Regions from separate parts of the Homo sapiens genome. Here region 1 is linked to region 2. Evidence: fine-mapped expression QTL. A gene starts in region 2. The other region holds a variant in brackets. All regions are shown on one strand. Distances are from middle to middle. Region 1 overlaps MDN1 (midasin AAA ATPase 1). Region 2 holds the start of MDN1 (midasin AAA ATPase 1).

Region 1 (4,392 bases), 35 kb before region 2:
GGCAGGCTGAGGTGAGTGGATCACAAGGTCAAGAGATCGAGACCAACCTGGCCAACATGGTGAAACCCTGTCTCTACTAAAAATTAAAAAATTAGCTGGGCATGGTGGCATGTTGCGGGAAGTCAGGGACCCCAAATGGAGGGACCAGCTGGAGCCACGGCAGAGGAAAATAAATTGCGAAGATTTCATGGACATGTATCAGTTCCCAAATAATACTTTTATAATTTCTTATGCCTGTCTTTAATCTCTTAATCCTGTTATCTTCATAAGCTGAGGATGTACGTCACCTCAGGACCACTGTGACAACTGTGTTAACTGTACAAATTGATCATAAAACATGTGTGTTTGAACAATATGAAATCAGTGCACCTTGAAAAAGAACAGAATAACAGCGATTTTTAGGGAACAAGGACAGACAACCATAAGGTCTGACTGCCTGCAGGGTCAGGCAAAAAGAGCCATATTTTTCTTCTTGCAGAGAGAGCCTATCAACAGATGTGCAAGTAGGGAAGATATTGCCAAATTCTTTTCCTAGCAAGGAATATTAATATTAATACCCCGGGAAAGGAATGCATTCCCGGGGGGGAGGTCTATAAATGGCCGCTCTGGGAATGCCTGTCTTATGCGGTTAAGATAAGGACCGAGATACACCCTGGTCTCCTGCAGTACCCTCAGGCTTACTAGGGTGGGGAAAAAACTCCGCCCTGGTAAATTTGTGGTCAGACCGGTCTGTTGTTTAAGATGTTTATCAAGACAATACGTGCACCGCTGAACATAGAGCCTTATCAGTAGTTCTGCTTTTGCCCTTTGCCTTGTGATCTTTGTTGGACCCTTATCAGTAGTTCTGCTTTATGCCTTTTGCCTTGTGATCTTTGATAAACCCTTATTAGTAGTTCTGCTTTTTGCCCTTTGAAGCATGTGATCTTTGTACCCACTCCCTGTTCTTACACCCCCTCCCCTTTTGAAACCCTTAAAAAACTTGCTGGTTTGAAGCTCAGGTGGGCATCACGGTCCTACCAATATGTGATGCCACCCCAGACAGCCCAGCTGTAAAATTCCTCTCTTTGTACTCTTTCTCTTTATTTCTCAGCCAGCCAACACTTATGGAAAATAGAAAGAACCTATGTTGTAATATTGGGGGTGGGTTACCCCAATAGTGGCATGCACCAGCTACTCGGGAGGCTGAGGCAGGAGAATCGCTTGAATATGGGAGGCGGAGGTTGCAGCGAGCCAAGATCGTGCCACAGAGTACTGTTCTGGGCGACATAAAAAGACTCCATCTCAAAAAAAAAAAAAAGAAAAGAAAATGTAGGAAAAAATATTTGAAGTTTGTGGCCAGGCACAGTGGCTCACACCTATAATGCCAACACTTTAGGAGGCCAAGGCAGGCAGGTCACCTGAGGTCAGGTGTTTTGAGACCAGCCTGGTCAACATGGTGAAACCCCATCTCTACTAAAAATACAAAAAAAATAGCCAAAAGTGGTGGTGGGCACCTGTAATCCCAGGTACTTGGGAGGCTAAGGCATGAGAATTGCTTGAACCAGGAGGCAGAGATTGCAGTGAGCCAAGATCACGCCATTGCACTCCAGCCTGGGCAACAAGAGCGAAACTGTTTAAAAAAAAATAAAATAAAATAAAAATAAAAGATTGAAGTTTGTTTGGTGTCACATATTTACCTATATACCTACATCAATAAAGGGAAAAGCATCTCTTCCATGTCTGAATGACCACTGACAATGCTTTGTCTGCCACTCTCCTAGATAAAGCACTGGGGAAGGGAAATCTTCCAAGTGAGACATAAAAGGGAAGTGGGGCATGAACGGAGTCAAGTGTAATATACTTCTTACTGATCTAGGATAACCACAATACTAGAAACTGAATCAATGTAGAAAACCTATAAAGTGATTTACCTCAATTCTCATTAATGCCTAGATCAAAATGTCCATTAAGTGTGAAAGACATTACTTCAAATCAACTTAGTAAAATGATCCTCTGTAGACAACTGGGAAAATTTGAATATAATCTAAGAATTCAATGATACTGAGGAATTACTGTTCATTTTATTGTGTATAATAATGTTATTGTGGTTATATATGAAAATGCCATTAAATTTTAAGAGATGTATGCTGGGAGTTTGCTTTCAAATATATTAGCCCAGAAAAAATAACAGATGAAGCAAATACAGTAAAATACTAGCACACAGACTGCAAAATTTAGGTTGATGAGGGTTCTGGTGGTTTATTATACTATTTCCTATTTCACGCGGGAGCCACTGCACCTGGCC[A/G]GCATTGATACTTTCCAAGACCCACGTACCTCATTCAGTTCTCTCTTATCCAGGTTATCCAGGTGAATTTTGGTCCAATATTTGTCTAGCAAAGTAGCATGACTGTTTAGCGGTCGATACCAATTTCCTCCACAGCTCAAGAGTCTACGTTTCAAAATAAAAAACACAGTCACACAAAATTCCAAATTTTAATCCTGAATTGTGCCTCTGGATATTACTTGCTGTACACTGTCTCACATAGGAAAAATATTCATAATCCCTTCTGTTTCCAGATACTACACTGTTGGGCTTACAGGGCAGATGACAAATGAAAGGCTGACAGTTAACCCATGTTTGGCTCTTCTCCTAAGTAGTAGTGATAGTGCTTTAACCAAATATTTTCAAATCACTGCAAATAATTCTACAAGGTAAATGTTTTTATTTCAATGACAGGTTCCTCTTCCTTAAGGCATAAATAACTTCAGGAAAGAGAAAGCATAATCCAAGGCTCATAGCATTAACATTAAGTTCACTGCTTGTTACCAGAAGCTACAGTACTTGAAAACCATTAAAAATTTCCAGAAGAGAAAAAAGTAGAGAAGGAATATACATTAAACATACACTCTGGGGAAGGTACATGCTTATGCATAGGCCACTTAGTCCTCACAACTGTCCCGAGAGGAAGATGCCATTCTTTTCTTCTGACATAAATGGAAGAGAAGGAAAGAATGGCCCTTATACACTCAACTGTGACTGAAAATGGCAGAACTGAAAATTGAATTCAAGTTTATCAGATCACAAGTTTGTCTAACATCTTTCCACGATGTCCCAGGTCTTTCTGGGAAGTGTTTGAATCTACCAGGGAAGAACTTCACTATCTCTATAAATAAAATCAAGGTCAGCCAGGCTCAGTGGCTCATGTCGGTCGTTGGGAGGCCAAAGCAGGAAGATCGCTTGAGCCCAGGAGTTCAAGACCAGCCTGGGCAACAAATTGAGGCCTCATCTCTAAAAAAACATAAAATAAGACAGGTGTGGTGGCTCACACCTCCCAGCACTTTGGGAGGCTGAGGCAGGTGGATTGCTTGAGGCCAGAAGTTCAAGACCAGCCTGGGCAACATGGCAAAACCCCATCTCTATTAGAAACACAAAAATTAGACAGGCGTGGTGCGTGCCTGTAGTCCCAGATACCTGGGAGACTGAGGCACGAGAATCGCTTGAACCCGGGAGGCAGAGGTTGCAGTGAGCCAAATCATGCCACTGCACTCCAGCTTGGATGACAGAGTGAGACTCGGTCTCAAAAAAAATTAATTAAATAAAATAAAAAATCAAGGTCTATCAAAACTAACAGTGCCAGGTACAGTGGCTCATGCCTGTCATTCCAACACTTAGGAGGCCACAGTGGGAGGACTGCTCGAGTCCAGGAGTTCAAGACCAACCTGGGCAATGCAGCAAGATTCCATCTCTAAAATAATAATAATAATAAAAAAAATTTGTTTTTAGCCAGGCATGGTGGTGTACCCCTGTAGTCCTAGCTACTCAAGAGGCTGAGGCAGGAGGATCACTTGAGCCCAGGAGTTTGTGGTTACAGTAAGCTACGATCAAGCCACTGCATTCCAGCCTGGGTACAAAGCAAAACACTGTCTCTAAAAAATAAATAAATGTTTAAAACAAAAGTAACAGGATTGGGCCGGGCACGGTGGCTCACGCCTGTAATCCCAGCACATCAGGAGGCCAAGGCGGAGGATCATGAGGTCAGGAGATCAAGACCAGCCTGGCCAACATGGTGAAACCCCGTCTCTACTAAAAATACAAAAATTAGCCCGTGTGGTGGCAGGTGCCTGTAATCCCAGCTACCTGGCAGGCTGAGGTAGGAGAATCGCTTGAACCCAGGAGGTGGAGGTTGCAGTGAGCCAAGATCACACCACTGCACTCCAGCCTGGGTGACAGAATGAGACTCCATCTCAAAAAAAAAAAAAAAAAAAAAAAGTAACAGGGTCAGCTGGGCACAGTGGCATGTGCCTGTAGTCTCAGCTACTTGGGAGGCTGTGCTGGGAAGACTGCTTGAGTACAGAAGTTCAAGACCAGCTTGGGCAACACAGTGAGACCCCATTTCAAGAAAAAAAAAAAAA
Region 2 (4,392 bases):
GAACAATTGGGCTTGAGATACATCAAAAAAAATACTTCAGGGCAGGGCGCTGTGGCTCATGCCTGTAATCCCAGCACTTTAGGAGGCCAAGGCGGGTGGATCACCTGAGATCAGGGGTTTGAGACCAGCCTGACCCACACAGTGAAACCCTGTCTCTACTAAAAATACAAAATATTAGCCAGGCATGGTGGCGCACGCCTGTAATCCCAGTTACTCGGGAGGTTGAGACAGAAGAATCGCTTGAACTCGAGAGGCGGAGGTTGCAGTGAGCTGAGAGGGTGGGCCATTGCACTCCAGTCTGGACGACAGAGCGTGCCTCCGTCTCAAAAAAAAAAAAAAAAAAAAAAAAAAATTTAGGCCGGACACGGTGGCTCACTCCTACAATCCCTGCACTTTGGGAGGCCAAGGCGGGATGATCACTTGAGCCCAGGGGTTCCAGACCAGTCGGGGCAACAAAGGGGGACCTTACAACTACAAAAAAAAAATTTTTTTTTTAATTAGCCACACCTGGGACCCAAGTACCTGGGACCACACTCACCTGTCCCGTGGCTCACGCCTGTAATCCCAGCACTTTGGGAGGCTGAGGCGGGTGGATCACGAGGTCAAGAGATCGAGACCATCCTGGCCAACATGGTGAAACCCCGTCTCTACTAAAAATACAAAAAGTAGCTAGGCATGGTGGCGCTCGCCTGTAATCCCAGCTACTGAGAGGGTGAGGCAGGAGAATCGCCTGAACCCGGGAGGCGGAGGGTGCAGTAAGCCGAGATCGCGCCACTGCACTCCAGCCTGGCGACACAGCGAGACTCCGTCTCAAAAAAAAAAAAAAAGTGTCTTCAACTCAGATAGAAGGAGTCAATGAGAAGGTTCTTAAAAGCCCGAAGACCTATTTCCCAGAAAACTCTAATTAACCTTATAATTTGTATAGTTAGTTACAGTGAGTATGAGCTGTCTTGCTCTGTACTTCAGCTGTTGTAAGTGTTTACGAACTGTCTCCAAAAACAGATGCAAATTTCCCTCATGGCAGAGATCGTAACGAATTTATCTATCCACTTTCTCACAGCGCCACACCGTTCCTTACGCACAGCAGGAATGCAATCAGTATTTGTCGATGGTTCCCCAAACTAACAGGAGTGGCTGCACTACGCACACTTAGGTGATACGTACACTTGTCAAAACGGCAGAAACGCAACCTCAATTTCAGAAAAACAAACCACATTCCTTTGGGAAGGCCACCTCTGCCACAAGCAGCCAAAGCGCTTGCATAGGGGTGAGAGGCGATGGGAAGGGTACTGGAAGGCTCCCCCAGATAAAAACAAAAGACTCCTTCCAATCGCCTCAAACACGCTCGGAAACCTCCACGACCTGCGCCAGCCCACAGGAGGGGGCCAGCTTGACCTGAGGCTGCACCACTCCCCACTTAAAGCGGCGAGTATCGGCGGGGGAGCGCAGGAAGCTTACTAGTGGGGCGACCCAGTCGTTCCGGCGCTTTCCCTCTCCCTTCACGTCTTACCTGCTTGGCCAAGAACCTGCCCAACTCACTGCGGCTCTTCTCGTTCTTGGCTGCGATTAACCGCAGCGGCGCGGCTGCCACCTCCAGCAAGAAGTGCTCCATGACCCAGGGCCCTCACCCCGAGCGGCCACCTGCGCTCCCTACTTCGCGGCCAGCGTCCCCAAGCCGCCGAGGTCCCAGTGCCCGAGCAGCCAGCAACTACGCCCGCAGGAAAGGCGTCCTCAGCTCCAGCGCCTACACCGGGAGAGGGGCACCACACGTGGGTGAGCACACGGCGTTTGACGTCATCAGCTCGGGACGGCTACGCTGCGCCCTCCCGGCCTCAGCCCCTCAGCGGCGGAAACGCCAGTCTTCGCTGTCCCGCCTTTTCCGGGAGGGAAATGGAAACAAAAATCTAGTCGGTTTGGATGCAGGAGTGATGGGGACTCGCGAACACAGCACGTGGTGGGACAGAAAGAAGAGTGCGTTAGGCCGGGGAGGAAAGAGGGGGCGTGTGAGTCTCAGCCCACCGTGCCTTGCTTCTGCCTTAACACACGGAAAGATCAGATGTGAGAGAAAAGCTGATTCTCGGCCGGGCGCGGTGGCGCATGTCTTTATCCCAGCATTTTGGGAGGCCGAGGAGGGCAGATCACTTGAGGTTAGCAGTTCGAGACCAGCCTGGGCAACATGGTGAAACCCCCTTCTCTACTAAAAATACAAAAATTAGCCGGGCGTGGTGGCGCGCGCCTGTAGTCCCAGCTACTCGGGAGGCTGAGGCAGGAGAATCGCTTGAACCCGGGAGACGGAGGTTACAGTAAGCCGAGATCGTGCAGCTGCACTCCAGCCGCGCGACACAGCAGACTTTTACTGTCTCAAAAAAAGAAAGAAAAGCTGATTCTCCCCTTCTTGTTAGCGGTGGCAGTTACCCCCTGTATAGGTAGGGGTCAGCAGTAACCTTAGTTCTTGCCTCCTCAGAAGAAATAATTCCACGAAGGGCATAAGGCAGGATAGACCTAGACAAGTTTCAGAATAGAAGTAAAAGTTTATCAAAAAGCTTTAGAACGGGACGGAAAGAAAAGGAGGAAAGTACAACTTGGAAGACTGCCAAGCAGGCGACTTGAGAAACCAAGTGCGCAGCTTGACCTGTTGACTTGAAGTTTTATATGTTGGCATACTTTGGGGAACTTGCATTGCTTCTCCCCACTCCTGAGATCTTACTGGGAAGCTACTGATCAGTTTCAGGTGTTTTCTATTAGGAGACTGCCTTTCGCTGGCCCCGGTGAACGTTAGAGAAACAGTTAAGAACCGCCTGACCATCGTTTGATTGTCACCCAATAGTCCTGGTATGTGTGGGGTGGGGAGCGCTCTCCTGTTCTGCTCATACCTAACTAGTTAACATTCTGCCCCAGCAATTCCCCTTGTAGGACTCTAGCCTGCGGAAATCCTCACTAAGTGTGACAAAGACACCCCTTGCAGTTTTCTTAATACAGATATTGGAAGAAAATGTTCAATTGGGAATATTAAACTATGGGGTGTAAGTTATAGCATATTCTGGAAGTCATAAAAAATAGTAGAGTCCATAACATTAAAAGTGCACTTGTGGGCTGGGCGCAGTGGCTCAAGGCAAGGCAGGCAGATCACGAGATAAGGAGTTGGAGACCAGTCTGGCCAACATGGTGAAACCCTGTCTCTACTAAAAATACAAAAATTAGGGCTGGGTGCCTTGGCTCACGCCTGTAATCCCAGCACTTTGGGAGGCCGAGGCGGGCAGATCACCTGAGGTCAGCAGTTTGAGACCAGCCTGACCAACATGGTAAAACCCTGTCTCTACTAAAAATACAAAAATTAGCCAGGTGTGGTGGTGCATGCCTGTAATCCCAGCTACTCAGGAGGCTGAAGCAGGAGAATCGCTTGAACTCAGGAGACGGAGGTTGTGGTGAGCCGAGATCGTGGGATTGCACTCCAGCCTAGGCAACAAGAGCGAAACTCCGTCTTTTTTTTTTTTTTTTAAGTGGGGCCAGGCGTGGTGGCTCACGCCTGTAATCCCAGCACTTTGGGAGGCCAAGGCGGGCAGATCACCCGAGGTCGGGAGTTTGAGACCAGTCTGGCCAACATGGTGAAACCTTGTCTCTACTAAAAATACAAAAAGCTGGGCATAGTGGTGGGCGCCTGTAATCCCACCTACTCAGGAGGCTGAGGCAGGAGAATAGCTCGAGCCCGGGAGGCGGAGGTTGCAGTGAGCGGACATCGTGCCAGTGCACTCCAGCCTGGGCGACAAGAGCGAAACTCTGTCTCAAAAAAAAGAAAAAGACAAAAAAAAAAATGTAGTTATGTAGTGATAATGCACCCTGGCAACTATTCTCAGGAATCTGTTGAAAGAGATGCGCCCTGAAAAAGGAGGATAAAACCAAGAAAGAAGACGACACGGGATCCAGGAAATAAGAGATTTAGCACAGAAAGAAAAAGTAAAATAACCCTGTCGATCGTAATCCTAATCCACGGGATTATTTTACTTTTAAGTGTTTAAAGTTAAGGGAAATCCCGGAACTTTCATCTGGGCAGCAGCAGGAAGATGAACAGCTCTAGGGTGATTAAATTAATAGAACAGGTTAGTGGTTGCCTGAGTTTGGGATTAGAAGAGAAGACAATGTAAACAGCCAGGAGGCAAAATTTGGGGGTAATAAAAATCTAAGACTGGGCAGGGCACAGTGGCTCAAGCCTGTAATCTCAGCACTTTGGGAGGCTGAGTCGGGTGGATCACAAGGTCAGGAGTTCAAGACCAGCCTGGCCAAGATGGTGAAACCCCATCTCTACTAAAAATACAAAAATTGGCCGGGCACGGTGGCTCACACCTGTAATCCCAGCACTTTGGCAGGCCAAGGCGGGCAGATCACCTGAGGTCA

Evidence for each region. PIP is the estimated chance that this variant, and not a neighbour inherited with it, causes the effect.
Region 1: its variant is the best candidate, but not a certain one, in a credible set for the expression of MDN1 in whole blood (TOPMed, PIP 0.54).

The regions. Positions count from the first base shown.
Region 1 is chr6:89,782,699-89,787,090 of GRCh38, forward strand. MDN1 (midasin AAA ATPase 1) reads right to left here. Exons shown (of 102, transcript NM_014611.3): 9 at 2,314-2,428. Among named protein-coding and RNA genes, the nearest start is that of MDN1, 35 kb to the right of the region's middle. The variant A/G (reference allele first, on the strand shown) is at 2,285.
Region 2 is chr6:89,817,996-89,822,387 of GRCh38, forward strand. It overlaps MDN1 (midasin AAA ATPase 1), which reads right to left and starts at 1,799. Exons shown (of 102, transcript NM_014611.3): 1 at 1,511-1,799. The coding sequence starts at 1,612. RefSeq lists enhancers at 1-256, 257-876, 1,453-1,842, 1,497-2,116, 2,117-2,736.